Regions from separate parts of the Homo sapiens genome. Here regions 1, 2, 3 and 5 are each linked to region 4. Evidence: fine-mapped expression QTL. A gene starts in region 4. Each other region holds a variant in brackets. All regions are shown on one strand. Distances are from middle to middle. Region 1 overlaps ST6GAL1 (ST6 beta-galactoside alpha-2,6-sialyltransferase 1). Region 2 overlaps ST6GAL1 (ST6 beta-galactoside alpha-2,6-sialyltransferase 1). Region 3 has its middle 39 kb from the start of RPL39L. Region 4 holds the start of ST6GAL1 (ST6 beta-galactoside alpha-2,6-sialyltransferase 1). Region 5 overlaps ST6GAL1 (ST6 beta-galactoside alpha-2,6-sialyltransferase 1).

What was found. PIP is the estimated chance that this variant, and not a neighbour inherited with it, causes the effect. A credible set is the group of variants that fine-mapping cannot tell apart.
Region 1: its variant is the best candidate, but not a certain one, in a credible set for the expression of ST6GAL1 in nasal epithelium (TOPMed, PIP 0.84).
Region 2: its variant is the best candidate, but not a certain one, in a credible set for the expression of ST6GAL1 in whole blood (TOPMed, PIP 0.88).
Region 3: its variant is the best candidate, but not a certain one, in a credible set for the expression of ST6GAL1 in whole blood (INTERVAL, PIP 0.81).
Region 5: its variant is the best candidate, but not a certain one, in a credible set for the expression of ST6GAL1 in blood mononuclear cells (TOPMed, PIP 0.60).

The regions. Positions count from the first base shown.
Region 1 is chr3:186,974,554-186,980,628 of GRCh38, forward strand. All of the region lies in intron 2 of ST6GAL1 (ST6 beta-galactoside alpha-2,6-sialyltransferase 1), which reads left to right. Among named protein-coding and RNA genes, the nearest start is that of ST6GAL1, 47 kb to the left of the region's middle. RefSeq lists an enhancer at 946-1,827. The variant G/T (reference allele first, on the strand shown) is at 2,872.
Region 2 is chr3:187,018,238-187,024,312 of GRCh38, forward strand. The region is part of intron 2 of ST6GAL1 (ST6 beta-galactoside alpha-2,6-sialyltransferase 1); the gene reads left to right. Among named protein-coding and RNA genes, the nearest start is that of ST6GAL1, 91 kb to the left of the region's middle. RefSeq lists a promoter at 3,165-3,742, a cis regulatory region at 3,649-3,742, an enhancer at 3,745-4,014 and a silencer at 5,981-6,070. The variant G/C (reference allele first, on the strand shown) is at 2,093.
Region 3 is chr3:187,097,457-187,103,531 of GRCh38, forward strand. No RefSeq gene overlaps it. Among named protein-coding and RNA genes, the nearest start is that of RPL39L, 39 kb to the right of the region's middle. RefSeq lists an enhancer at 4,465-4,514. The variant C/T (reference allele first, on the strand shown) is at 2,899.
Region 4 is chr3:186,927,759-186,933,833 of GRCh38, forward strand. It overlaps ST6GAL1 (ST6 beta-galactoside alpha-2,6-sialyltransferase 1), which reads left to right and starts at 2,768. Exons shown (of 8, transcript NM_173216.2): 1 at 2,768-3,076. RefSeq lists enhancers at 2,383-2,991, 5,085-5,134, 5,155-5,214 and silencers at 2,679-2,758, 2,999-3,188.
Region 5 is chr3:187,003,679-187,009,753 of GRCh38, forward strand. The region is part of intron 2 of ST6GAL1 (ST6 beta-galactoside alpha-2,6-sialyltransferase 1); the gene reads left to right. Among named protein-coding and RNA genes, the nearest start is that of ST6GAL1, 76 kb to the left of the region's middle. The variant C/A (reference allele first, on the strand shown) is at 2,509.

The DNA of each region.
Region 1 (6,075 bases), 47 kb after region 4:
GCAGTTGTCACCACAATCCAGTTATAGAACATTTCCGTCATTAGTGGGGTCAGCTTTAGATGCAAAAGACAGGAGAATTATTTTTGTTTTTATGGGATTAGTTCTGTGCTCCCAGCAGGAAGATCTCATTAATTAATTAATTAATTCAATTAGTATTTACTGAGAGCCTGGTTGGGGGGGGGGCGCCCACAGCAGGGTTGGGTGCAAAGGGAAATAAATAAATAAACAAGTGGTGGGGGCTGCTTCACTGTGGCTGATGAGCTTCCACTGTCAAGTGTAGCCTAACTTGCCTGCTCAGGTGGGGTTCATGGCAGCTGCAGGGCAGGTTTCTGCTTTCTACCCTGTAACTCTTATTGGAAGGCAAGGCAAAGGCCTTCTTTTGCAATACCTGGTATTGCAGTGAATTATTGACTGAGCAGACAGAGAGACGTGTCCTCGCCAACATCTACAAATAGCTCTGGGCTTTGGCAGGCCTGGATGCAGGATCTTGGAAAAGAGGAGCGTGGGTCTGCTGTTTACAGTGCAAAGATTTGACAGGTGAAATTGGGGCGAGGGTGCGCTGAGGGAGGAAAGGAGTGCAGGCAACGTCAGGGCCGGTGGCCAGGGTGAATCCAGGGAAGCGGGTGCCTGTGTGCACGGTGGGTGTTGCTTGGAGGCTGGGGAGTGAGTGGGAGTATGGCCTTGTATACTAGACTGAGAGGCATTTGCACTTAATGGAGTAAACATGGAAGATGCAATTTCAGTGTCTGAGGAGGAGCTTAATGATTCAGAGCTGGACTTCAGGAGATTAATCTTTTGTGAGAAGATAAGCAAGGGATGGGTTGGGAGACTGTTGTGAGGGTCCTAGTATTAGATGATGTGGACTTGACTTGGACAGGGGCATTGAGGCAAGGAAAGAAGAAGTGCAGGGGAGAGAAAGTTCTGCCAGGTGATGGGGAGTGATTCTTCTCTGTCCCTGAGGTTCGTACCTGCCTGGCCATCTGCCTTTTGCTGTTCAACCAGTCTCCCTCTGCCTGTCCACAACTGAACTTCCCCACAGTGTGTTCTTCCATGGCCTCTTTGTACTCTCCCATCCACTTCTTCCCTCTTGTTCTACTTCTCTTGCCCAGGAGGAAGGAGAGGATCCAGCGAAAGAGATGGAGAGAAACAGAACACTGTACCCATGAAAGGCAGTGCCAGGGCAGGCAGTGGAGAGAGACTTCCAGAGAGGGTGGCTGGCTGTGCCAAACGCCACAGAAGTGAGTGAGGCTGGCACTGAAGGAGGTCTGGGGGACTCACGATTGGGACTAGGGTGAGACCTCCCTTACCTCATCCCAATCCTGGCCCTGGGAGGAACTGGGGACCTCGGAGAAAGCATTAGTTTACAACAAACTGGACCAAGTGTGGGACTGTTTCTTCTGAGGACAGCCTCCCAGCCTCCCATAGGAAACTGCCTGCAACTGCTCGGGACCCACTGGTCTCCTTCTTCCCCACCCCAAGACAGCCCCTCAGGGTCTCCACGGGCTCGCTAGAGTTCCTGCACACAGTTTCAAGACCACAGATCAAACTCACCTCCCTGCATCCTACCACAGAGAACTCTGAGACCCAGCAAAGTACCTGACTTGTCCAAGGTCATCCAGTGAGGTGTGACCTTGTGGGTCTTTCCTTTGCTTTCCTTTGATTTCTCATCTTCAGTTGGTTTACGCTCTCCTTTTATTCACCTCCCCCAACCTTCCCCTCCTCCGTAAGAATTGGAAACAGAGAGTTGATAGTTGAGGTCTGATTTATAGCTGAGGATTGAGGTCAAATTTGTAGCTGAAGATTGAAGTCCATTTACTGAGTGCCTACTTCTACCAAGCATTGTTTTAGAGGTGTTTACATACATCATTTTATTTCATTCTTTTTTTTTTTATTTGAGATAGCGTCTTGCTCTGTTGCCTAGGCTGGAATGCAGTGGCACTATCTCGGCTCACTGCAACCTCCATCTCCCGGGTTCAAGCGCTTCTCCTGCTTCAGCCTCCCAAGTAGCTGGAACTACAGGCATGTGCCCCCACACCCGGCTATTTTTTACATTTTTGGTAGAGACAGGGTTTCACCATGTTAGCCAGGCTGGCCTCAAACTCCTGACCTCAAGTGATCCACCTAGTTTGGCTTCCCAAAGTGCTGAGATTACAGGCATGAGCCACTGTGCCCGGCCTTAATTCTTATAAGACCCTTTCAAAGTAGGTGTCATTACCCTATTTTCCTGATGAAGAAATAGAGGCTCCTAGAGACTGAATGGCTTGCTTACCTTTGTATAGTTACTAACTGGTGCTGCTGGTTTATATTCTCTCCCCACGCATGTATTTCTTCAGTCACTCATATTTACCTAGTGCTTTAATGCCAGGCACTGTTTTAGGTGCTGATACCATATGAATAAAGGACACAAAAATCCTGCCAAGACCTTCTCCATTTGTGGCTTGCTTGCCAGAGGAGATCGGCTTGTTCTTTATAAAGTCTCCTGTGCTAGATGTCTCAGGGCTGGGTATAGCAGCTGCTGTGTTTATTGGCTATTGCTGAGATGAAATTCATGACCCGATTTGCTCCTCAGCCAGCAAGGCATGTGGACTTCTTTCTGTCTGCTTCCGGGGGTCTCTGAAGCCTTCTGCTGAAACTGCCCCTAGGCGAGATAGTTTATTCTGTAAGGAGTGTGACTGTGGCTCCCTCCCCCACGGCTTCTCCCCCATTTCTTTGCTTTTATCACCAGCGGTTTCCCTTAGCCACCACCGCTAGCAGAACCCTGATTTAGTTCCACGATTTAGCCCTGATAAAGGCGAGCTATTTTGGCTTCCTCTGCCCTAAGCCCCAGGGAGAATTTGGACTCAGTGTTTTCACTTGTCATTTTAGACTGTT[G/T]GCCAGAGTTTGCGGAAGAAGGCCTGTATTATTAATGCCCTTGCCGGGAACAGCTGCACCCTGCCAGGTTGTCATGTGAGACCTCTGAAAAGCTCAGAGCTACAAGGCCCACAGCTCTCCTGGGCCCACTGGGTCAGGTGGGAAATATGATCCTACAGAAACTGCAGGCAGCCAAGGAGGGCGGAAGGCAACTTGGAAGGAACTGATCAGTCTCACGCAGGAGACACAGCCGTCCTCTGAGCGCCTCAGGAGGGCTAATTCCATCCCGTGCCTCCAGGGGCCTGCTGTATTTGAAGATCTTTTAGCCTGAGGGATTTTATCACATCATATAAAAGACACATAAAATAAAAATGAAGATATTAATAATCAGTTTAATAATATTTAGAGAGCCATTATTCCTTGTAGTGGTCACTATCCTCATCACTTGAAATAGTTTTAATTTTCAGTACAAGCCTTTGAAGTGAATGGGACTTGTTATTGCCATTTAATAGATAAGAAAACAGTCTCGGCCGGGCGTGGTGGCTCATGCCTGTAATCCCAGCACTTTGGGAGGCCAAGGTGGGAGGATCACCTGAGGTCAGGAGTTCGAGACCAGCCTGGCCATGGTGAAACCCCATCTTTACTAAAAATACAAAAATTAGCCAGGCGTGGTGGCGCACACCTGTAATCCCAGCTACTTGGGAGGCTGAGGCTAGAGAATCGCTTGAACCCAGGAGGCAGAGGTTGCAGTGAGCTGAGATCATGCCACTGCACTCCAGCCTGGGTGACAGAGCGAGACTCCGTGTCAAAATAAAAATAAAAGAAAAAAGAAAAAACAGTCTCAGAGAGGTTAAGGGAATTACCCAAGGTTATGCCAGGTAGTAAAGGTAGAGGTGGAATTTGAACATAGTCTATCTAGCTGGAAGCTCCTGCCCCTTTCAGGATGCTGTGAGCCACTAGACACATCATATTTCTCTGACTCCTCCTCAGTTTATCTGTGCAGTTGGTTCCCACTCCTCTCTCTCCACGTTACTCTGTTAACAGCTTCTGGAGCCTGGTGTTCCAGGAGGGACTTGACCAGAGTTCACTATCTGCTGAGCCAGGGGTTAGCTGGGTGGATGGTGGGGCTGCAGGCCAGACCAGGAGCCAGAAAAGATGGTCTCTGGCACCCTTTCCTTTATTCACGGAAATGGCCCCTCTTCACCTCTTCGTGCTCCATCAAAGCTCCTTTTTAGTGCTGGGAGCACACCACGGAGTTTAGAGAAAACAATCTAATAATGTTATTTGCTTGCTTAGAAAACCTCCACCAGTCCCAGTTGCTTGCAGGATAAATTGGGACTAGAAATACCTCTGTCTGGAGCAGATGTCCTGTCGAAGACCATTTCTCATCACTGCAGCCCTTATACCCTGTCCCACCTCACAGCTTCTCCCCATCCCTGAACACAATGGGCCACTTTCATGACTGAGCCTTTGCACTGCTATTCTCTGTTGGGCATGCCTTGCTCTGCTTGGTGAACTCCTGTTCAAACTTCAAAACCCAGGATGAACTTTACCTTTTCTGACTTCTGACTTCCTCTAGTAGAGTTGGCACCACCTCCTCGGCCCTTAGTTTTTAATGCTTTACATGATTTTCCACCCACTAGTTTATGGTCTTTTCTCTAAGACCTCAGCAGCAGGAGCTGGGCCCTATTTATTTCTGTATCATCTGTATTTGGGGCATATTTGTGTGAACAAATGAATGAGGGCTCATTGTAAAACAAACTGTATATAAAGTGTGAGTCACAGGTGGCCCCACTTTAACTGAAATGTTAGGTTAGGTTGGGGGAATTCAGAGAAAGGAGAGGTGATACCCTGAGGCCTAGCGTTATTGATTAGTTGACCAGTGAGCTATGCACTCTGCCTGGAGCATTACTGCAAATGAGCCTAGGACCTATTGAGAGAAGGTCCCAGGGGTGAAGTAACAGTGGGAGGCCTTACAGTTGGGAAGTGAAGCTTAGGTCTTCCCTGTTCTCCAGGCCAGACTCAAACTCTGTGCCTGATCTGCTTCCCAAGAGAGGAACTCCTTGGGCAGACCTGGAGAAAAAGTGGGGATTTTGGATGGTCCCCAAAGGAGGGTAGGGGTAGAAGAGGAGTCGAAACAGAGACAGGAGGAAGTCCAAGACAAACTTTCCTTCCTTAATACATAGTGCTCGGGGGCATCCTTCTGGCTGTAGCATCTGCGTAATAGCTGCTCCTAAGAATGCAACGTGAGCTGAATTCAAACATGAATTTGGAGCCAGTACCTGAATATGTGGGTTGTTCTATGCCACCGGGCCCCCTGCCTGTTTAATTTCTCCTTCCCCTGCTGCCAAGGCTTCCGAGAAGTTGCTGTGTAGGTGCTTAATGCTTCGGAGATGGTCAGGTATGAGTTTAAATCCTGGTCTCGGGCACTTTAATTGCTAATTGTGTAGCACTGAGCAAAAATAATAGGGATGCAGCTTTTATAGCACCAATCAGGTCAGTGATGTTGGTGATACTGTTGAGAGCTTACTATGTGCCAGGCATTATGCTAAGTGGTTGATGACCATTATCTCATTTATTCCTCCGTATACCCTACAGGCAGATGCTGTCATCATTCTGAAATTCCAGATACGTAACTGAGGTTCAGAGAGGTTAAGTAAGTTGCCTGAAGCCATAAAACAAACGATGATGGAATCAGATCATGGATCCTGATATGTCACACCTTAACCATTGTGCCATTGGTCTACAATTTGCCTGATCCTAAGAATCACCTGAGACTCTTGTTAAAAGAGCAATTCCCAGGCCCTGTCTCAGATTCAGATTCAGCCCAGCTGGGGTGGAGCCTGGGGAGCAGTGGATGCAGCGGGCACCCTGGATGATACTAGGATCTGGCAAGTTTAAGAAACGCTATATTGTGCCTTCCTGCCTGTAAGTTGTGGCTCATGGTTGGCCCTCAAGAAATGTTAGCTGTTAGTATTATAATATAAATGAATTGAAAGGACAGCTTATTGTGAAAGAATATACGTCTTTAAAAAGCTTATTAGTCCTGACACTAGATTTTAAAGATAGAGGTCGGATGGGCGCGGTGGCTCACGCCTGTAATCCCAGGACTTTTGGAAGCCAAGGCAGGTGGATCACGAGATCAAGAGATCGAGACCATCCTGGCCAACATGGTGAAACCCATTCTCTACTAAAATTACAAAAAAAAAAAAAAAAAAAAAATTA
Region 2 (6,075 bases), 90 kb after region 4:
TAGAGTGCCTTAATTTTGCCTAGTTAGGGGCTGTTGGGGGTGGTTTTTCTAAGCACCCTTCTGTGTCTAGCCAACCAGTAGAACCTGATTTTTGGGAGGTGAATTAGCCAGGGTTCTCTAGAGGGACAAAACTAATAGGATAGATGTATTTATAAAGGGGAGTTTATTAAGGAGTATTGACTCACACGGTCATGGAACTATGTGAGGTCCCACATAGTCCATCTGCAGGTTGAGGAGCAGGAAAGCCAGTCCGAGTCCCACAGCTGAAGAACTTGGAGTCTGATGTTCGAGGGCAGGAAGCATCCAGCACAGGAGAAAGATGTAGGCTGGAAGGCTAAGGAAGTCTAGTCTATTCACATTCTTCTGCCTGCTTTTTATTCTGGCTACAATGGCAGCAGATTAGATGGTGCCCACCCAGATTAAGGGTGGGTCTGCCTTCCCCAGCCCACTGACTCAAATGTTAATCTCCTTTGGCAACACCCTCACAGACACGCCCAGGATCAATACTTTGCATCCTTCAATCCAATCAAGTTGACACTCCGTATTAGCCATCACAGGGGCATGCTAAGCAAGAATTGTGTCTATGGCTGTAATCACAAAGTTACGATTATTGGAGTAAGCTCCACAAACCAGAGTCCCTTGTCCAGGGCCTCCAGAGATCCACCAGACACTTGAGTATCTCGAAAAGCCAGATGGGAGAAGCACGTTCACCACGGCAAACCTGCGCAGCCAAGAAAATCAAGTTTCTTTGTTTTATGCTAAACTTTTATCAACTGACTGTGGTAGTCGTGGCAATCTCATGCCATTCAGAACCTCTGATTGGCAACAGTATCTTTGTTCATTTGATAACAAATAACTCAAATTTTAAATTAAAGTTAGTCGACAACATCTTTCAAAATCTTGGAATCGTGTCGGGGGAAACAAAATACAAGAGATATGATTTGATGTGAAAGAATTTAGGACCTCTTGGCTTTGATTAAATTAGGGTGTGCTTCTGTTGTTTCACTGGGATTGTGAAATGTTGGGATGAGGAGATATGAAAAATCTATAGCTGAATATTCTGTTGATGGTTTTAAACCATAGAAATAAATATTCAGGAAGTCTCTATTGAGTAGCTCTATAGGGTAATGCTAGCTGCTAGAGCAAATAAACTCACGTCTTAACCATCTTGGCCCAGAAGTGATGTATGTTATTTTTGCTCACATTTCTTTGCCAATAACTAGTAAAATGATCCCATCTATATGCTGTGTGTGTTTGTGTGTGTGTAAAATGCAATCCCTCTCTGGACAGTAATTTACAGCAATAACTATATGGCAGAAGGAGCAAACTTCTTGTGGGGCAGCCAGCTATCCCTGATATGAGGAAAGAGAAAGAAGGGTCAGCATTAAGTGGCAGCTCAGGTGGCACACATTAAGAATCCAAGCTCTTAGAGAAATGGGAGTCCTTCATGGGAGAGGGTTTCTGGCAGCCAGGACACATGGAGCCCCTCTCGGAGGCACTATGCCACCCTCTGGGGGCAACAGGGTGTCAAGCACTCTAAGTCTAAGAACAGAAAGTTTGGGTTCTAAGGTCCAGATGAGGGTGAGGTTTGTGCACTAAAGATTAAGGAGATGAAGATCAGGGCAGAGTAAATAGGTGTCACCAGAAGGTCAATACAGTGATTAGCAACTGTAGTTGGTGTGATAAAGCAGAGAGGCTCGCAGTAGCCCTTGGAAGGGCCTGAGTAGAGGGACATAGGATGAAGAGCACTACCAGTTTGTTGGTTAGAATAATCTGGTCAGCCGGGCATGGTGGCTTATGCCTGTAATCCCAGCACTTTGACAGGCTGAGGCGGGTGGATCACGAGGTCAGGAATTCAAGACCAGCCTGGCCAAGATGGTGAAACCACGTCTCTACTAAAAATACAAAAATTAGCCGGGCGTGGTGGCGGGTGCCTGTAATCCCAGCTACTCGGGAGGCTGAGGCAGAGAATTGCTTGAACCTGGGAGGTGGAGGTTGCAGTGAGCCGAGATTGCACTGCTTCACTCCAGCCTGGTAACAGAGCGAGACTCTGTCTCAAAAACAAACAAACAAACAAAAAACAAAACACACC[G/C]TGGTTTCACCATTTACAGTGACATCTTGAGCAAATGACTTAAACTCTCTGAGTTTCAATTTCTTTATTTAAAAAAGAGGATTGTTAATACCCCACCCCACAGGGTGGTGGTAAGAATTAAATTTGGTAACATCTATAAGACCTGCTGTTCATTACAGTTGATTCTTAAGGCAGCATCCGGTGATGCCTTTGAAACATACATCGGCAAAGTCTTAATCAGATGAAAGCCAAAACCCCTACACCTGTGTAAGGCGCCACATTATCTGGCTGCCCCTGTGTAGGTATTTTGCTGTTCCCTCTACTTGCAACCCTCTTTTCTCAGAAATCTGCATGGTAGCCTCCTTCATCTCTGTTAACAGAAAAACCAAATTCTGTAAAATATTTTCAAGAAGTTTATCCTGAGGCAATATGAGTTACTGTAGCTTAGAGAAAACACAAACCCAAGAAGCCTTGAGTGAGTGGCCCTGAGGCAGTTGGGCCATAGTCTGGTTTTATACATTTTAGGGAGACAGGCATTACAGGCAAGGATATCTGGAAATCAGTACATGGAAGGTAACTGGTAGTTCTGTCCAAAAAATGTGAGACATCTCAAAGTGGGGGAGGGTGCGGTGTTAGGATATATGTATTGGTGGTTTTTTTTTTTGTTTTTTTTTGAGATGGAGTCTCGCTCTGTCACCCAGGCTGGAGTGCAATGGCGTGATCTCTGCCCACTGAGCCTCTGCCTCCTGGGTTCAAGTGATTCTCCTGCCTCAGCCTCCTGAGTAGCTGGGATTACAGGAGCATGCCACCACGCCCGGCTAATTTTTGTATTTTTAGTAGAGATGGGATTTCACCATGTTGGCCAGGATGGTCTCGATCTCCTGACCTCGTGATCCACCTGCCTTGGCCTCCCAAAGTGCTGGGAATACAGGCGTGAGCCATCATGCCTGGACTATGTGTTGGTTTCCATGCATGTTTCCTGGCGCATAGCCCCATAGCCCTTGCTACAGTCTTGCTAGAATGCTGGGCTTTTTAGACTTCAGGGACAGGCCCTAAGAAACAGTCTCTCTCCTGCCGTCCTTTCACCTGCCCCAAGGCAAGGTTTTTATGTTTTCTGGCCTGACTGTGGGCCTTACAACCCTCCCATGAGGCCAGGCATAGTGGTTCATGCCTGTAATCCCAGCACTTTGGGAGGCCGAGGTGGGTGGATCACCTGAAGTCAGGAGTTCGAGACCAGCCTGACCAACATGGTGAAACCCCGTCTCTACTAAAAATAGAAAAATTAGCCGGGTGTGATGGTGGGCGCCTGTAATCCCAGCTACTCGGGAGGCTGAGGCAGGAAGAATTGCTTGAACCCGGGAGGCAGAGGTTGCAGTGAATCAAGATCATGCTACTGCACTCCAACCTGGGCGACAGAGCGAGACTCTGTCTCAAAAAAAAAAAAAAAAAAAAACCTTCCCATGAGAGGTTCCTACCCTATGCCCTGGGGGAAGAAATGCTGACGTCAAGGAAGCTTCTATAAAAACCCAAGAGGACAGGGTTGGGTGAACTTTCTGATAGCTTAATAGGAGGAGGTTCCTGTAGGGCGGCACAACCAGGGAGGGCGTGGAAGCTCTGCATCCCTTCTCCCATACCTTGCTCTACACATCTCTTCATCTGTATCCTCTGCAGCATCCTTGATGATAAACCAGTAAATGTAAGTAGGGTGTTTCCCTGAGTTCTGTGAGCCGCTCCAGCAAATTAATTGAACCCACGGAGAGGGGAACCCCAATGGAAGCTGGTTGGTCAGAAAGAAGTTCTGGAGGCCTGGACTTGTGACTGGTGGAGGGGGGATGTCTTGGACACTAAGCCCTCAATCTGTAGGATCTGACACTATTTCCAGGTAGATAGTGTTGGAACTGAATTAGAGGACACCAAGCTGGTGTCGCTGCTTGGTGTTGGGGTGGGACCCCCACACATATGGTCACATAAGTCATCTTCTGTGTTGATTGTTGTGGTGTGAGAGCAGAGGAAAGATGGCTACAGAGAGTTTTCCCTACACAGGGACTTGGGGGGTAGAGGGTTAGGGGAGGGCTGAGGGGCCTTACAAGTCTTAAGTGCGTTTTAGGGATTCTTTAGCTAACAGTAGCTGAGAGAGTCAAGTTATTGTCTAGTGACTTGAAGTCAGTAGGAAGGAATGCCTGAGTAAGATAAGGAGGTTGTGGGGGCCTAGGTCCTTGGAGCCTCATAGATAGCAGCCCTCTGGGTGAATAGATAGTGATTGTCTCTTCTCAGACCTTTGGGTGTCTGACTCTCAGTTAGAATCTCTCCTAGATCTGGGAAAGGCCTAGCAAGGGAAGAGACATTAATATCGATTCTCTGGAGATGCACGTTTCCCCCACCAAAGATGGCTTTGCAGTCCAAAGGCTGTCTGGCAGCCTTTTCCAAATATGTCAAAGAAATGTATTTTGGGGCAAAATATTTTAATTTCCTTCAGAGTCTGCTGTCTGTCATGTGATACTATACCAGAGTCAGGTTGGAGAGTAAGCCACATTTTACTGGGTTAATTAAAAAACCCATTTAATGAGACTGTATTGTTTCTAGGGTATGACTTAATCTTTGCCTTTTATGGCCTTAGGTATTGTGTATAGTTTGGTATCTTATTGTCATAAAGGGTCTGTTTGGTCAGTCTTATAATCTCTATTTTACCTTAATGCTGGTCACTTGTACCTAAACCCCAAAAGGGAGGGGTATGATGAGGGTGTAACCTCCTTTCTGTCATGGCTGGGAATTCAGTTTTTCAGGTTTCTCTGGGGTGCCCATGGCCAAAAAGGAGTCCATTCAGTTGGTTAGTGGGGGGCTTAGGATTTTATTTTTGGTTTACACCTCCTTCCAACCCTTGCTCAAATGTCTTCTTCTCAGTGAGGCTTTCTCTGATCATCTGATTTAAATCTCCACCTCACCCACTCCAAGCTGTCCCTATTTCTCTTCCCTACTCTAATTGTCTGCATATCAGTTATCTCCTTGCAAAGCACCACGGATTTATGTTGTTTGACTCTTTATTTATCCTCACTATAAGGTGAGTGCTGGAGGGGTTAGGGATTTCTGGCTGGCTTCTCTACTGCTGTGTCTGCAGTCTGGTTCACAGTAGGCAATCAGCATTTGCTGAAAGAATGAACCTATAGCTTGGAACCAACCCAAATGTCCAACAATGATAGACTGGATTAGGAAAATGTGCACATATACACCATGGAATACTATGCAGCCATGAAAAATGATGAGTTCACGTCCTTTGTAGGGACATGGATGAAGCTGGAAACTATCATTCTCAGCAAACTATGGCAAGGACAAAAAGCCAAACACCACATGTTCTCACTCATAGGTGGGAATTGAACAGTGAGAACACATGGACACAGGAAGGGGAACATCACACACCGGGACTGTTGTGGGGTGGGGGGAACGGGGAGGGATAGCATTAGGAGATATACCTAATGCTAAATGATGAGTTAATGGGTGCAGCACACCAACATGGCACATGTATACATATGTAACAAACCTGCACGTTGTGCACATGTACCCTAAAACTTAAAGTATAATAATAATTAAAAAAAAAAAAAAGAATGAACCTATCGCATGAGTATTGGTGTAAGTTTTCTTACAGGCCCCGGGGCCACCACAAAGTAGAAGAACTCAACCTTCCCTATTCATTTCCTCACCTCCAACTCCCTTAGACTACCAGGACTTAGATCCTTTTGGGTATATATATACATATATATGTTTTATATATATACATATATACATGTTTTGCTTGTTTGTTTGTTTTTTGAGACAAAGTCTCGCTGTGTCACCCAGGATGGAGTACAGTGGCATGATCTCTGCTCACTGCAATCTCCGCCTCCAGGTTCAAGTGATTCTCCTGCCTCAGCCTCCTGAGTAGCTGGGACTACAGGTGCATGCCTCCACGCCTGGCTAATTTTTTGTATTTTTAGTAGAGACGGGGGTTTCACCATGTTAGCCAGATGGTC
Region 3 (6,075 bases), 170 kb after region 4:
GACAGAAAGTTAACAAAGAAGCAGTGGACTTCAACTATATGCTAGAACAAATGGACTTAACAGATATTTACAGAACATTCTACTCAACTACTGGAGAATATACATTCTTCTTATCAGAACATGGAACATTCTCCAAGATAGACTGTATCATAAGCCACAAAACAAGTCTCAATAAATATAAGAAAATCGAAATCATGTCAAGTATCTTCTCAGACCACAGTAGAATAAAACTGGAAATCAACTCCAAAAGGAACCTTCAAAACTATAAAATACATGGAAATTAAATCATCTGCTCTTGAATGATTTTGGTGTTAATAATGAAATCAAGATGAAAATTTAAAAATTATTTGAAATGAATGATAATAACCGACACAAGTTATCAAAACCTCTGGGATACAGCAAAAGCAGTGCTAAGAGGAAAGTTCATAGCATTAAACGCCTACATCAAAAAGTCTGAAAGAACACAAATTGACAACCAAATTTTACACCTCAGGGAACAAGAGAAACAGGATCAAACTAAACCCAAAGCCAGGAGAAGAAAAGAAATAAAGATCAAAGTGGAACTAAACAAAATTGAAACAACAACAACAACAATAAAAAATACAAAAGACAAATCAAACAAAAAGCTGGTTCTTTGAAAAGATAAACAAAGTTGGTAGACTGTTAGTGTGATTAACCAATAAAAGAAGAGAGAAGATCCAAGTAAGCTCAAATAGAAATGAAACTGGAGACATTACACAGAATACCACAGAAATACAAAAGATCATTCAAGACAACTATGAACAGCTTTATGTGCACAAACTAGAAAATCTAGAGGAAATGGATAAATTCCTGGAAACATATAACCTTCCTAGATTAAATCAGGAGGAAATAGAAATCCTGAACAGACCAATAACAAGCAGTGGACTGAATCCGTAATAAAAAAAATTGCTGACACAAAAAAGGTCCAGGACCACAGAGTTTCACAGCTGAATTCTACCAGACATTCAAAGAATTGGTACCAATCCTACTGAAACTATTCCAAAAGATAGGGAAAGAGGGAATCCTCCCCAAATCATTCTATCAAGCCAGTATCGCCCTAATACCCAGACTAGAAAAGGACATAATAAAGAAAACTACAGACAAATATCCCTGATGAACAAAGATGCACAAATCCTCAACAAAATACTAGCCAACTGAATCCAACAGCACATCAGACAGATAGTATATCACGATCAAGTGAGTTTCATCCCAAGGATGCAGGGATGGTTTAACATACACAAATCAATAAATGTGATAAATCACATAAACAGAATTAAAAGCAAATGCTATATGATCATCTCAATAGATGCAGAAAAAGCATTTGATAAAATCCAGCATCATTTTATGATAAAAACCCTCTACACACTAGGCATAGAAGAGACTTACCTCAAAATAATAAAAACCGTCTATGACAAAGCCACAGCCAACATCATACTGAATGGGAGAAAGTTGAAAGCATTCCCCCTGAGTACTGGAGCAAGACAGGGATGCCCACTTTAACCACTTCTGTTCAACATAGTACTGGAAGTCCTAGCCAGAGCAATCAGGCAAGAGAAAGAAATAAAGTCATCCAATTTGGAAAAGAGGAAGTTAAACTATCACTGTTTGCTGATGATATGATGGTATACATACAAAACCCTAATGACTCATCCAAAAGCCTCCTAGATCTGATCAACAAATGCAGTAAAGCCTCAGGTTACAAAATCATTGTACACAAATCAGTACCACTGCTATACACCAACAACGACCAAACTGAGAATCAAATCAAGAACTCAATCCCTTTTACAAAGCTGCAAAAAAAAAGTAAAATACCTAGAAATATAGTTAACCAAGGAGGTGAAAGATCTCTACAAGGAAAACTACAAAACCCTGCTGAAAGAAATCACAGATGGCACGAACAAATGAGAACATGCCTCAAGTTTATGGATGGAAAGAATTAATAATGTGAAAATGACCACACTGCCCAAAGCAAACTACAGATTCAATGGAATTCCCATCAAAATGCCATAATCACTTTTCACAGAACTAGAAAAAAGCAATACTAAAATTCACATGGAACCAAAAAAGAGCCCACATAGCCAAAGCAATACTAAGAAAAAAAAAATCTGGAGGCATCATATTCCAACTTGAAATTATACTACAAGGCTATACTTACCAAAACAGCATGGTACTAGTATAAAAATAGGCAGGTAGACCAATAGAACAGGACAGATAACCCAGAAATAAACCACATATTTATAGCCAGCTGATCTTAAACAAAGCATACAAAAACACAAATTTGGGAAAGGAAATCCTATTCAATAAATGGTGCTAGGAAAACTGGCAAGCCACCTGTGGAAGAATGAAACCATCTGCATCTCTCACCTTATACAAAAACCAACTCAAGATGGATCAAAGGCCTAAATCTAAGACCTGAAACCATAACAATTCTAGAAAATAACATTAGACAAACTCTTCTGGACATTGGCATACACAAAGGATTCATGACTCAGACCCCAAAAGCAAATGCAACAAAAACAAAAATAAATAAATGGGAACTGATTAAACTAAAAAGCTTTTGCACAGCAAAATAAATAATCAGCAAACAGACAACCCACAGAGTGGGAGAAAATATTTCAAACTACACATTCAATGAAGAACTAGTATCCAGAATCTACAAGGAATTCAAACAAATCCACAAGTAAAAGACCAAATAATCCCTTCAAAAAGTGGGAAAAGGGCAGGAGTAGATAATTCTCAAAAGAAGTATACAAACATATGAAAAATGCTCATCATCATTAATCATCAGGGAAATGCAAATTAAAACCACAATGAGATACAACCTTACGCCGGCAAGAATGGCCATAATTAAAAAATAAAAAATAAATAAAAAAAAAA[C/T]GGATGTTCACGAGGATATGATGAAAAGGGAACACTTTTACACTGCTGGTGGGAATGTAAATTAGCACAACGTCTATGGCGAGCCCTTAAAAAAACTGAAAGCAGATTCACCATTCAATCCAGCAATCCCACTACTGGGTGTCTACACAAAGGAAAAGAAGCCATTATATGAAACGGACACACACACACACATATTTATAGCAGCACGATTCACAATTGTGAAGATATGGAACCAGCCTAAGTGCCCATCAACCAATGAGTAGATAAAGAAAATGTGGTATATGGAATACTACCCAGCCATAAAAAGGAATGAAATAATATCTTTTGAAGCAACTTGGATGGGGCCAGAGGCCATTATTCTAAGTGAAATTACTCAGGAATGGAAAATCAAATACCATATGTTCTCACTTACAAGTGGTAGCTAAGCTATGAGGATACAAAGATATACAGTGTGATATAATGGACTTTGGAGACATGGGGCAGGGAAGGTTCGGGGCAGTGAGGGATAAAAGACTACATATTTGATACTGTGTACACAGCTCGGGTGACAGGTGCACTAAAATCTCAGACTTCACCACTGTGGAATTCATCCATGTAACCAAAAACCACTTGTACCCCCAAAAGCTACTGAAATAAAGTAATAATTTTAAGAAAGGAGAAATTAAATTTACCATATATATAAAAGAAATGAGTGTAATATTAAGGGCATGAAGTACAGAGAAAGACAACATTACAATTATTCAGAGAATTTATTGGAAATAGCTAGTATTAATAAAATGTTCTCCTTTAAAAAAAACAAACAAACCTGAAATGCTGGCTGTGCTCCGCAGTCTGATGAGACCAGTGGCTGGACTCTGCAGTAAGGCTGAGCTGTTTGATTGCTCCTTGACAGGCCGTGTTGTAGGCTGTCTTCTCTGGTTGGCCAGTACTGCAGTTTTGAATCTGTAGTTTGGCAGGACTGCATGCTGGGCTCTGAGGCTGAGCAAGGCTTCTCGGATCACTACTTAACTACTCTGGGTGGACGGGGCCAGAGGCGATGCTTCACAGATATGCGTGAACTTGAGCTTGCTTCTCATCCCAGGATAACCTTAAGCAGAGCACTGAGGCTTGGTGTTTTAGCTCTTTGGCTGATGGAGCTGGGTGGGGCCAGATACTCCCTTTACAGATAATCACTGCCCTGCCCCTATCTCCCAGCCTGGGTAAATTTCAAGGAGGGTAACAGGACTGGCTGTGGAAGCTGGCCAGGTACCTGAATTTGAGAGACCAGTTGACTGTGCTTAGTCCAGAGCAGCGCTGTTGGCTAGCTTCTCTGGTGGTGCACCTCCACTGGCCTGAATGCAGGACAGCTGCCAAGATTCCTGCACTAGTTGATGTGAGCCCCACATCTGTTCTTTATCTCCAAGTGATCTCAGATGTCTAGCTCTGCTGATACTCCCAGTGCTTCCTGTGTGATGAGACAAGAGAACACTTCCTCTGAAGGGTCCCAGAATGGTGGCAAAGCTGAATGTTCACCTCCAACTCTCTCCTCCCTGTGTAACAACCATGGGTCCCAGAGAATCCTCTATGTGTGGCACGTTGCCAGCTTGGGGGAGGAGCAATGTGGCCAAAGTGAAACTACTCCTCTTATTCTTGGCATGCGGCTGTTCTCAGTTCTGCGGTATAAGGGGGTGTCTTAGCTTCACTCTCAAGTTCTGGAATATTCACAAGGGTGTTTTTGTCTGTGAGTAGTTGCCAGTGGATTTGTGTATGTATGTGTGGTGGGGGAGGAGAAATGGAGCTGGAAAATTCCTATTCTGTCTTCTTGCTGATGTCATTCTCAATGTCTTTTTTTTACTGCTTTTAAGATTTTTTAATCTTTATCAGTAGTTTTAAGTAATGGGAGTATGATATGCCTTCTTGTAGTTTTCTTTGTGGGTTTTTTTTTTTTCTGCTTAGGGTTATTTGAGCTGTTTGGAACTATGTTTACAGTTTTAATCAGATTTGAAAAATCTGTTTTTTTTTTTTTTCTGAGACAGAGTCTTCTCCTGTTACCCAGGCTGGAGTGCAGTGGTGTGATCATAGCTCACTGCAGCTTCAGTCTGCTGGGCTCAAGCAATCCTCCAACCTCAGCCTCCTGAGTAGCTGGGACCACAGGTGCATGCTACCATGCCTGGCTCCCTCAACATAGAAGACCCTGTCTCGTCAAAGAAAATTTTTATTTTATTGCTCAGGCTGGTCTCAAATCTCTGGCCTCAAGTGATCCCCCTGCCTCAGCCTCCCAATGTGCTGGGATTATAGGTATGGACCCCCATGCCCACCCTCCTTTGGAGAACCAAATAACATGAATGTTAGGTTGCTTAAGGCTGTTCCATAGCTCATTGGTCCTTTCTAAATTGTTTAAATTATTCTTTCTTCTATTTTATTTTGGGTAGTGTCTAGTGCCATGTCTTCAAGTTCACTTATATTTTCCTCTGCAATATCAAGTCTGCCATTAATCCCATCCAGAGTGTTTTTATCCGAGATATTATAGTTTTGATCTTTCCTTTGGCTTCTTGAATATGTAAAATACAGTTTTAACAACTATTTTTATGTCTTTGTCTAGTAATTATATCAAGTATATCATCTATGGGTCAGTTCTAGCTGATTTTACTCCTAACTATGGATAACGTTTTCCTGCTTCTTTGCATGACTGGTCATCTTTTATTGGATGCCAGACATTGCAAGTATTTTCTTTTGGGGTGCTAGATATTTTTGTATTTTTATCAATATCTTGAGCTTTGTTCTGGGATGCAATTAAGTTTCCTGGCAATAATTTGTTCCCTTTGGATACCACTTGTTTGCTTCCTGTTCCTCAGGAATCCACTATTCGTTATTACCTGATTTCCAATGTTTTAAATATTGTTATTTTTTTCATGTTCTTTATTTGTTTCATGTAAGAGGGTAAATCCAGTCTCTTTTACTCCATCTTGGCCAGAAATTGAAATATCTCTTCATTAAAACTTGAAATAAATATGTTACAGGAGTTTTACTTCAGCAGAATCTGGGTTCATTCAAACATGTGGCTCTCTCTCAGAGACTGGAAATAGGGACGCTACGGGCCTCCCCGTGCCCCACCCGCCACCTGAGCAGTGTACACTGTACCAAATATGTAGTCTTGTATCCCTCACTGCCTCCAGCCTTCCATGCCCCAGGCCCCAC
Region 4 (6,075 bases):
GTTTTCTCCTTAATTTGGTTTTCCAGTTCTCTGCAAAAGAGAACTGCGGAGTGGGGACTGGACAACCTCTGAAAGAGCGCCTTCTGCTTTTGTGGAGTGCAGTGGCGTGATCTCGGCTCACTGTAAGCTCCGCCTCCTGGGTTCACACCATTCTCCGGCCTCAGCCTCCTGAGTGGCTGGGACTACAGGCGCCCGTCATCGCGTGCCCGCCTAATTTTGTTTTTGTATTTTTAGTAGAGATGGAGTTTCACCATGTTAGCCAGGATGGTCTTGATCTCCTGACCTGTGATCCGCCCGCCTCGGCCTCCCAAGGTGCTGGGATTACAGGCGTGAGCCACCACGCCCAGCCCCGGTTAATTTGTTTTGTGTTTTTAGTAGAGACAAGGTTCCACTGTGCTAGCCAAGATGGTCTTGGTCTCCTGACCTCATGATCCGCCCGCCTAGGCCTCCCAAAGTGCTGGGATTACAGGCGTGAACCACCGCACCAGGCTGTTCTTAGTTCTTAAGTAATGTTGACATATGGGTGATGATGAAGGAGATGATTAAAGCTTTCAAAGAAAGTGGAAGAATGTGTCAAATTCTCTCTTCACTTCCTAGATGACTTCAGTTTCCTAATCCATAAAATAGGACTAAGACCATTACTTATCTGATGAAAAGGAGAGACAATGTAATAAATAAGGTGCTTTGAATCCTGTATTAGTCCATTGTCACACTACTGAGAAAATTATAAATTACCTGAGACTGGGTAATTTATAAACAAAAGAGGTTTAATTGACTCACAGTTCCATATGGCTGGGGAGGCCTCAGGAAACTTATAATCATGGTGGAAGGTGAAGGGGAAGCAGGGCACATCTTACATGGCGGCAGGTGAGAGAGAGAATGCAGGGGAAATGCCAGACACTTATCAAACAACCAGATCCCGTGAGAGCTCCCTATCACAAAAACATCATGGGGGAAACCGCCCCCCACGATCCAATCACCTCCCAGGAGGTCCCTCCCCTGACACATGTGGATTACAATTCAAGATGAGATTTTTGGGTGGGGACACAGAGCCAAACCATGTCAGATCTCCAAATGGTAGCTATTATTTAGATGTCCTTTTCTTCTGTCTTGTTACAGTCACTGACACAGTTCAGGCTCTTATTATATCTCCATTGATGTCAGCTTCCAATCTAGTCTCTTGCATTCTCTGCTTCTGCCATCTATTTTCCAGTGTGGTGCCAGAGGAATCCTTGTAAAATACAAAGATGCATGTCATGCTACTGCACAGAATCTTTTAATAGCCTCCTTTTTTTTTTTCCCTTTTTCGAATAGGGCCTAAAATCTTCAATGTAGCATCCTTCCAGAAATAGTCTTCTGAACTTGGCTGCTTCTATTCATTCACGCATACATACATTTTACTGTCAGGAGCACCTTCTATATGCCAAACACTAAGCTACGTGTTTCACGTAGGTCATTTCACAGGATCCTGAAAACAACGCTTTCCTTAATATCTCCATTTTGCAGAAGAGGAAAGGGAGGCTCACAGGATGTGGAACTCACCCAAGAAGGCACAGCGAGTTGGTCATAAAGATTTGAATTCACTCTGGCTGGCACTCCCTTCAATTGGAGCTCTTTGTACTGAGCAAAAATGCCTCAGGGGCAGCAGGGAAGGGAATGACAGTATCAGCAGAAGGGAGCCAGGATCAGGACAGGGAGGAAGCAGTGTTTGGAAGAAGGGTGCTGGGGACAGGGTGCGGATGTAACTTCCCTTTCCAAGGTTGGTGATGTGGGGTAGGCACCTCATTTGGAGACAGAACTCTGGGCCTGGGCTTCAGGCACTTTAAGTGTGCACTGGACTTTGTGTTCCCAGAGGACCCCCAAACCTTCCAGTATCTCCTTCCTTTCCCCTTTCCCACCCAGCACACAGCCTGGTGCCTAGTGTGCACTCAGTAGACAACTGGGATATGACTATTGCCTCTGGTAGTCACATCCTCTCTTTGGGCTATGGGAGGCTGGACTGGAGGCCTTAAAGGCCCCTTCCGCCCTCCTGTTGGGCAGTTTTTCTTTCTTAGGGAAATCGCCTTGGGGCTATCGGGGATGGTCAGTACGCAGCTTGGTTAATCCTCTTTCCTTCCCCAGCAGCCCCACCGTCGTCCGGGTGAAAAGAAAGAACCTCGCTCCCTTCACCATCCAGGCTGAGGCTTCAGTCTTTCAGCCTGCAGCTTGGGGTGGAAGCCTCTGGGTGCAGGGGTTCGAGGACGCTCCTCTCCTTCTGTATTTGCCATTTGAGAGCGCCCAGTAGGAGTCATGCCTCAATGTTAGGAGGTTAATGCCAAACGCAGTGAAAGATTTTGTTCTTTCCTATTCTAGATAAGAGCAACACGAGTCTTCGGAGAGGTTAAGCGACTTCCTCAGGGTCTCGCAGTCAGCCGGTAGCAGAGACCGGGTGTACAGCACCCGCATGTTAGGACCAAAAGCCGGACACTGCTGGATTGACCCCTCGCGGCCAAGCGGGGAAGAGGCATTTAGGGGTCCTTGCGCAGCCGCGTGGCCCCTCCCACTCGGCCCTCGATCCACCCTCCTTGAGAGCAGGCAGGATTCTAGCATCACCCAGTGCCTTCATCAAGAGTCTTTAACCCCAAGCCCGCTCGCTAGCGACCTCCAGGCCGGTTTGGGGCGCGGTGTGGCCGGTGGCGAGAGGTGGAGTGGGGGCGGAGACCGACCCAGTCTTCGCAACTCTATTTGCATACGGAGGCGACTCGCTTCCTTCCCGCCCCTCCGCCGCGCTCTTCTTCCTTCCTTCTCCAGTCCCTTCCACTGTGCGTCTTCTGTCCCCCGTTCTTCCCCAGCGGACCCCTCTTTCGAGACTCCCTAGTGGGGTCCCCAGCTCCCGGGCGATCCTGCCCTTGCCGAGCGCGTTTTCTGGAGTCACCTGGGGGAGGGGAGTCCTGGGCAGGGCCGGGCTGGGGAAGACGCCTGGGGCACTGCCCGGCGTTAACAAAGGGAGCCGATACCGACCGGCGTGGGCGCGGAGCGGGCGGCCGCCACCGAGCGTGCTGAGCAACCGCAGCCTCCGCGGCCGAGAGTGCAGCGAGTGAGTAGGGGGTGCGGTGGGCGGCGGCGCGGCCCGGGCTATCCCGGGAGGAGTGTGATGCAAAGGGGCGCGGGAGGATAGCGGAGGCGCGGGGCCCGCGGCGCGCGTAGGGCGCAGGGAATCTCTCTCCAGCTCCGCCTCAGCTGCCTTGGCTCCGGGGCTGGCCGCCTTTTGGTTGGGGGTGTGTGCATTTTTGTCAGGGCCAAAGGGCCACCCTGGCTTCTCTCTGGCTCCGCGAGCCTGCGGATCCACAACAAACCCACGTGCGCACAGCCCCGGGGAACACGGATTTCTCCACGGCACCGTCAGTATGGGGTGGGGTGGCGTGGGGGCATTGCGCCTTGCAGAGTCTGGGTTTACGGATCGACAAATTGAGGCCCGCGGCAGCGGAGGGGGCACAGGCACCATAACAAACGCACGTGCGCCCTGCCCGGAGAGCTGGACGCACTGCATACCCTTAGGGGCCGCCCTGCGGTGCCGGGCCATTGTCTCAGCCTCGGGGGAGGGAGTGGCTCTAGAGGCGCCACTTGCTGGAAGAGGGCGAGAGAGACATTTAAAAGGTACCGCTTGGGCATCAGACTAAACTGCCAGACTTAAAAAGGGAAACCAAAACAAGAAAGCAGCTACAAAAAGGTTACTCCAGGCTGAGTCGGTCCCCGGCCGTGGCGCATTCTTTTGGGTGAAGTGGACCACCCCTCACCTTCACCTCCTGGAGGTCTCTTAGAGATGTGGGTTGGGTTAAGGGTCTAAGGGTGCCCCTCAAAAAAAGAGAGTGCTGGGTGCACTATTGTCCCCGCACTCCGGCGATTGCCTCTGTGGGGATATTTTGGTCGCCTCCTCAGCCTGCGGGAAGAATGTACGAGTCGCCCAGTGCGGTCTTGCTCTTTGCCTCTGAGGCCCGTGTCCGTGTGCCCAGACACCCCAGATGTCACTAGCCCCTTTTGGCTTGTTAATGCATTTTCGCAAGCAAGGCCAGCCGAGACCTCGTATTCTAGCTGGGGACGTACAATTTTCAGTTCTGAGTTTATTTGAAAGAAATTCCGAGGTCCGGAAAAAGAGAACTCTTGTTTGTTTTGCTTTTTCTTTGCTTACATATGCTCAGCTCAGCTTTGCAGATGTTAATCGGACACGATCTGCAGCGGGGAGATGGTTTCGCGGTGAATTGGTCTCTGAGGCGATGGTGTTGGTGCAGGTTGTGGGCGTGCAGTGTGAGCAGGAATGGAGGCGCCGCCGCCCCAGTGTGTGCCTGCTGAGCGGGCGGGCTGCTGCCTCACCTTGGCTAGTGTGGCTGAAGATTAACCTGTCCCCGGGGGGGGAACTGGAGAGCCTCCAATCCTATTCCGCTGTTATTGAAAAGGTCTAGAGAGCATCTAGGGAGCCTTCTCATTTTACAGGCAGGAAGCTGAGGCCGGAGAGTTCAGCCACTTGTCCAAGTTTAAACCGGGTGAAACGGGCCACAGAGAGAACACTTGAGTGTGGGTCTCCCAACTCCCACTGCATCGCTCAGCGGGCAACTAAAGGCAAAACCGGGATTCTGTGATTGGCCTAAAAGGCAGTGGCCTTAGGCAGAATAGGGTGAAACAAAGAGTAATTCAAATAGAAAGCTGCACCCTTCCATTATCCCTTTCAAGAATTCTTTATTCTGTTGAGAAAAAATAGATTTAGTAATTCCTTACTCTCCTTCAAGCCTTTCAAAAGCTTAGTTATTTTTCTCTCCTGGCTGCCCCTTCCCCTCAAATTGGAATAAGGCCAGCTACGGAGACTCAGATGTTTTGCCTCTCATCCTTGTGCCAGGAGGCCTTTGTTTGGGCAAAAGCATGGGCTGTTGACATCAGCCCCACGGGGAAGAAAGTGTGTCTTAGCAAGCTACTCCTGAGCCACTTGTGGGAGAACAAAGCATTGTTTTCACTGATCTTATTAAAGTTACTTTTTTTTTAACGAGAGTCCCATGGAAGTAGCTGCTTATTTTTGTATTTGGCAGAGAAGTAGGAAAACCAAAAAAACACTGAGAAGCCGGATTTCCCCAAAGTTAACATGTTGTTTTGCACTGTGCCTGTTATCTCCTAGTTACACTTGTTTCTTTTCCTTAGAGTTTCCAGCGTGTTTCACTTTCAATGTGATTCTGGTAGCAACAGGAGGCAGCTGGATGCCTAGGCAGATAGGGTCAGGTACCCGGTGAAACCCCCACCTCCAGGCCAAAGACAGTTTAAAGCCTGAAAGCCAAGCTACGAGTTAAATCCTCAGACCAGAGTGAGAACTTGTTTGGCGTGCTTTCCCCTAATTGATTCCTACATTTCGCCTGTTTTACATATACCCACTTTTTCCTAATTGGTTTTCTACGCTGCCGTGCCCACCTTTGAGTGGTGTCTTTGCTTTCATCTTTTTTGCATACTCACAAACCGGTCAGCATGCACTCCCTATTCTGAGTCCATAAAAGGCCCCTGACCCAGCCACATTGGGGAACTTTTCCGTCTTCAGGTAGGGGACCAACCCGGTGTCCCCTCTCTGCTGAAAGCTGTTTTCAACACTCAATAAAATTCTTATCTGCCTTCCTCTCCCTTCAATGTCCAGTGTATCCTCATTATCCTTTGGTGTGGTGCACGAGCTCGGAACCACCGAACGCGGGTACAAGCTATAATACAGTGAGCTGGGACACACCTGCATGGCCGAGCGAGCACAGGTGGGGCATTGCTGGCCCGAGGACCAAGAAGAAAAATCCTACATCAATTCCTCTTGGCACTGCAGTATAGTTTTCTCACCAGGACGCTGACCCTGTAAGGAACTTCAGAAATCATGTGACTGGACCCTTTTACTTTCCAGATGGGAAAAGTGAGGCCTAGAGAAGAGAAATTGCTTGCCTAATGATACACAACAATGCGTGGTCTACTTTTAGTGCACCTTTTTGCGTAAAAGGGAAATGGTTGCATCAAACCAGTAGTTGTTGGTACTCCAGAGAAAAGCCAAAGTTATGGTTGTTATAACAACACCCTTTAAGTCAG
Region 5 (6,075 bases), 76 kb after region 4:
AAATTTTGCTTTTGAAGAATTATAATGGAGAATTTTTAGGAGAAGGATAATTGAAAATCCGTCAGACAGCAGTGAAGTTTAGGAACTACCATTCTGGACATAACCATACATCATTAATAAAATATTCCTTACATCCCTATGCTACTTTATTATTGCCAAAACATTTTTTTTTCCTTTGGTCCTCGTAAGGGTTCTTAGAAAGAGACAGAAGAGCTATTATTTCTACTTTCATACAAGGAAATGTGGCCTCAGGGATTGATGTGGTTTGAATATATGTCCCCACCAAATCTCATGTTGAAATGTAACCCCCAGTGCTGGAGGTGGGGCCTGCTGGGAGGTGTTTGGGTCATGGGTGTGGATCTTTCATGGCTTGGAGCTGTCCTCACAACAGTGAGTTCTCATGAGATCTGGTTGTTTCAAAGTGTGTAGCACCTTCCCCACCACTGCCTCTTGCTTTTGCTTTCGCCATGTGATGTGCCTGCTTCTGCTTCACCTTCCACCATAACTAAAAGCTCCCTGAGGCCTCCCCGGCAAGTGAGCAGATGCTGGCACCATGCTTGTGCAGCCTGCAGAGCTGTGAGCCAATTAAATCTCCTTTCTCTGTAAATTACCCAATCTCAGGTATTTATAGCAATGGAAGAACAGACTAACACAGGGAGACTATCTGAAAGTCCTATGACTAGCAAGTGGCAGAGCCAGCCCCAGAGCCCAGGACTTTTCCTAAGAGAGAGGTCCTGCTTCTGATACCAAAGTTTTTCTATAGAAAGATGGCCTTTTATAAGCATTACTGAGAAGATACCTCCAGGTGCCCAGGAAGAATCTCCTGCTTGTAGCCTCCATAGGCAGTGTAGGAGGAAGGGAAGAAAACAGCAGAGTGGACCAAGGTAGCAATATGTAATACACTAGAGTCGGGAGCGAGAATGATGTCCTGTTAGCTTATACGGCACTTTCGTGCTATTAAGAAAGGATGCCCTTTCAGCCAGTACCAGATGCCATTATGCAGTGAACAACTTGTACAGTCATATGTGACATCCCAGAGAGAAAACAACAAATACAGAAACCTTACTTATTCAGGAATTAATTATTGATGAGGAAGCTAAATTGGTGTTTCTTTCCTTTAGAGAAATTGATTGAAAATACTTCAAGATGATTCAAAGCTAAAAGAGAAGAAATCATCTTTCTTTCTTCTCCCTTTTACAACCTTTCTATCTTCTATCCTTTCTCTTTCTCCTCTTCTTCCTTTCATTACTCAGCACTTATTGAGTGCCAGGGCATGAAAATGCAGAGATAAATGAGGTGGCATCTCTCCCTAGGAGCTTCTAAGTCTTACAAACGTTTTTGACTGCCACCATCAATAAGAAGTACATTTTATGGTATTGCAGTTTTTTTTTTAGGTCTTTCTTTTTTAAGGTTTTTATATATTGAAACATTTATTAATGAAATGATGAGTTCAGGATTTGTTTCAAAATCTAGGGATGTAGGCGTAAGTGGGGTATACACAAAACAGGACTGACCATGAGTTGATAATACTGAAACTGGTCATGGGTCTGTGGGGTTCATTATCTGTCATCCATGTTTCTTTTTCTTTTTCTTTTTTTTTTTTTTTTTTTTTTTGAGACGGAGTCTTCGCTGTTTCGCCCAGGCTGGAGTGCAGTGGCGCGATCTCGGCTCAGTGCAAGCTCCACCTCCCGGGTTCATGCCATTCTCTTGCCTCAGCCTCCCCGGTAGCTGGGACTACAGGTGCCCGCCACCATGCCCGGCTAACTTTTGTATTTTTTAGTAGAGATGGGGTTTCACCGTGTTAGCCAGGATGGTCTCGATCTCCTGACCTCGTGATCTGCCCGCCTCGGCCTCCCAAAGTGCTGGGATTACAGGCATGAGCCACGGCGCCCGGCATCTGTCATCCATCTTTCTAATGATCTATTTGAGACAAAAGTTTCATGAAGCTCTACTTTCTCTTATTACATGCAGTGGATTCTGATATTTTAAAATCTTGTTTATTCTCTTTTTAAAAACCTGGTCCTTGTGCCCAAATTGCTTTTGAGATCCACTGATGTAAAATAATACGTATTTTGAAAAACACTGGTGTATCGAGGGAGAGAGGGACCTATAAAATAATTGATTACTGTCAACCAGAAAGTGCTACTAGAATATGGTCAGAGGGCTGTGGGAGCACACAGAAGGGAAGGACCGACCAACAGGGTCCTGGGGAGTCTGGGAAAGCCCTTCAGTAACTTGCATGGAAGAGGAGACATAGGCATCTTTGACAAGATGGTGGGGGGATATCTGACCTTGAGGATGAGGGAAGTGGTGCAAGTGGGGTGAGCCAACCTGAGTTCAGTATGGCTGCAATGTGAGGGCTGTTGGGGAGTGGCAGGAAATGAGGTTACAGATAGCAGCAGCAGCAAAAGTCACTAGTCTTCTGGGACAGCCTAAGGAATTTATATTTTATCTGTGTTTCAGGGAACCATTGGAGGATAAACTGAGAAATGGCCCAGTTCCATTTGC[C/A]TCTTACAGAGATCATTCCGTCGGCTCCTTGTAGATAGACCAGTCTACCTCTGTGGTCTGATTTAGAACATAAAACCTAGACCCAAAGGAGAGCCAGTCTGGAAGCCAGATCTAACCTACCTCATGTAATCATGTCCCCACTCTGCCACATGACTTCTCAGATCTACACAGAACACAAATTGGGCTTTTTCAAGTATTTATCAAAACAAAAATTATGGTCACTTTCAGGACATAGGAAGAGGTGAAAATAGAGCCAATTCCCTGTGTGCTCCTTTCCCCTTTTCCCTGCATAGGGTTCTCTCATCTGTAGAGTTACGGCAACCTGTGAGAGATTCATAGTAATCACCTACAGTGTGGCATTTTTCTAGGTGCTTTACAACTATTAACTCACTTAATCTTCATAATAATTCTATGTGGTAAGTATTATTATTATTAATTTCATAGATGAGGAAACTGAGGTAAAAAGAAGTAAGTGATTTGTCTAAGGTCACACATCTAGCAATTAGCAGAGCTGGAATTTTGGCAATCTGGCCCCAAAGTCCACTTTTAACCACCATTGTGCTTCTTGATTAAGTTTGATTTCATTCCAGTCATCTCCTTAGACTCAGATGTTTGAACAAAGAGAATCGTGAAAAAAATTTGGCTTTAAGTTTTATTCTCAAGATTGCCAAATCCCTTTCTTCCCTAATGAGAGGAAGAGGAAAGTTTTCTAGCTGGGAGAAAAAGGATGGCTTCTTAGAAGGAAGTGGTATTTTAGTGGAGTTTTGAAACATGGATGAGAAGTAAATTGCTGAGAAGGATGAGTTGCTAGTACAGCCAAGATGAAATAATCCAACCACAATCTCTACCAATGTTTACAACAGAAAGCTGAATAGGATGCAAAAAACCACATGAAAACTCTGAAAAGTAATAGCAGGCAGGCAGAGTACTGGGTTCAAAACTTGAACAATGACTCACGATGAACATGGATTTGCAGAACAGTGTGGAAAGCTAAGAGTCCGAGATAACTCCATCTTTCTAACTAGAGGAAGCAGGGGGGAAAAGCCACTGGAAGCCAGAGAGTGTGAGGAAATCCCTGAGAGGAGAGAGGTGGAAAAAGGGATCCACAAATTGGACTGACAAAAGTCCTGGGCACACTACAAGGTGTGCATGCATGGAACAGACCCAGGAGGCACAGAAGAGGTTTTGAGAATCTAACTATGATATTAACAACCACCCAAGTCCCAGACAAACTCTTGAATGGAGCATGTGACAGATTGACTCAAATGGCATACCAAAAGCTTTGAAAACTGATCTGACACTGGAGCTAACACTCATAAAAAGTGAGACAGTACTTTCAGTCTGAACCTAAGTGGATTAATTTCCTGGTAAAACAAACAAACAAACAAACATTTTTCAGATGATTTTTAACAGGATTCAGAGTCTCACAACATATTAAAAAATCCAGGATACAATTCAAATTTACTCAATATCAAAACAACCTGGAAAATCTAAACAGTACTCAAAGGAAAAGACAGTTCAATAGGCAGTAACACTGAAATGACTTAGATCGTGAAATTATTAGACAAATAAAGTAGGTATGACCATTCTCCACTCTTGAAATTAGAAAGTTCTTGAAATTAGGAAAGATAGAAGTTCTCAGCAGAGAACTAGAAACTGCAGAATAATCAGATAGAAATTTTAGACCTGAAAAGATGATATGGGCCCAGTAGCGGAATAAATATAACAGAGAAAAGAGTCAGTGAACCTGAAGGTAGATCAATAGAAAGTATACACAATGAAATATACATTATGAAACAAAAAAAAATTGGAGAAAAATGAAAAGCCTTTCATGGTACTGTGGGACAATGTCAAAAGGCTGAAACTTCTTGGTATTGGCATTCCATCTCAGAAGGTAAAAAGAAAAATACTGGTGCAGAAAAAAATATTTGGAGAAAGAGTGGCTGAAATAGTTTCAAATTTAAAGAAAAACGTATCTTCACAAATTGAAGAATCTCAGTAATTTCAAACAGGATACATTTAATAACAACTCCTCAGCCACCTCATAAGAAAACTTCTAAAAACCAAGGATTAAAAAACATTAAGAGCATTAAAATATGACACATTATACGTAAGAAAAGGGAAGGAAGAAAAGAGAAGAAAGGAAGGACTCAAGAAAGAGAGAAAGAAAGAAAAAAGAGAAAAGGAAAGGAAGGAAGGAAGGAAGGAAGAAACCTATTCGAATGACTGTCCATTTCTCATCCAAAACCATGGTGGCCAAAGACGAAGACAGTGAAACCCCGTCTTTAGAATGCTGGAAGAACAAAAAAACTATCCACCCAGAATTTTATATCCAGAAAAAATATTCTTTGGGAGTGAAAGCAAAATAGAGATATTTTCAGGTGATGGAAAACCAAGAGGCTTCATTTCCAGGAGCTCTCCTCTTAAAGAAATACTAATGGAAGTTTTTCAACCTGAAGGGAAGCTGTACTAGAGGAAAAGTTAAAACTTGAGGAACAAAAGAAGAGCAGGAGAAATAATAAATATCTAATACATTCCCCTTGATAAAAATACACACAAACATAAATCTCATGACATGGGTAACTACAAACTACTGGCGATATTTTAGATTTATTTCCTTTAAGTCTTTTTTTTCTGTGAATATGCGTTTCTCTTTTTCTTTTTTGGTTTTTCTCTCTCTGTCTCTTCCTTTCATGTGGACATTTCATAACATATTTAAATATTCCTTTTTGTTGGGATTTGAGGTTGTTTCAGGTTATGCATGGACTGAAGTCAAACTACAGTCTTTGGCAGCATTTCTGATAATTCTTTTTTGGAGATAGAATTACTGAATTAAAAGAAGATGGACATTTTTAATGCTTTGATTCTATTTGTGAAATTGCCCACCCTCCCTCCCTTCTTTTCTTCTTTGCTTCCTTACCTCCCCTCTTTCTTCCTCCCTTTTTCTTTCAACTAAGATTATGTAGTATATAGTTTTATAATATTCTTTATTTATTCAATCTATATTGTGAGCATTTTCCTGTTTTGTTAAAAAGTCAATAATTAAAAAAACTTTTAAGTTTTTAAATTATTTTTAATGGTACTATGGTCGTATTTTTTTAAAGGTACATAATTACATGTTTATGGATGGAATGATATGTCTGGGATTTACTTAAAATACTTAGGGATAGGTGGCTATGAATAAAACATTATTGACCCTGAATTGATAATTGTTGATGCTAGGTAACGGATACATGGTGGTTCATTATTGCTACTTTCTATAGTTTTCTATGAGTGCAATTTTTTATTTTAAAACTTTATCTGAGTGTGGTGGTGTGTGCCTGTAGTCCTAGCTACTTGGGAGGCTGAGGAGGGAGGATGGCCTGAGCCCAGGAGCTCAAGGCTGCAGTGAGCTATCACTGTGCCACTGTCCTCCAGCCTGGGTGACAGAGTGAGACCCGGTCTCTAAAAATAAGTAAGTGAATAAATGTTTTAAAAGTAAAAACTGTAAGAAATGTTTATGAATTTATTTTTAATTGTTCAATCGTGACCCATTGTGGCTGGGCATGGTGACTCACGGCTATAATC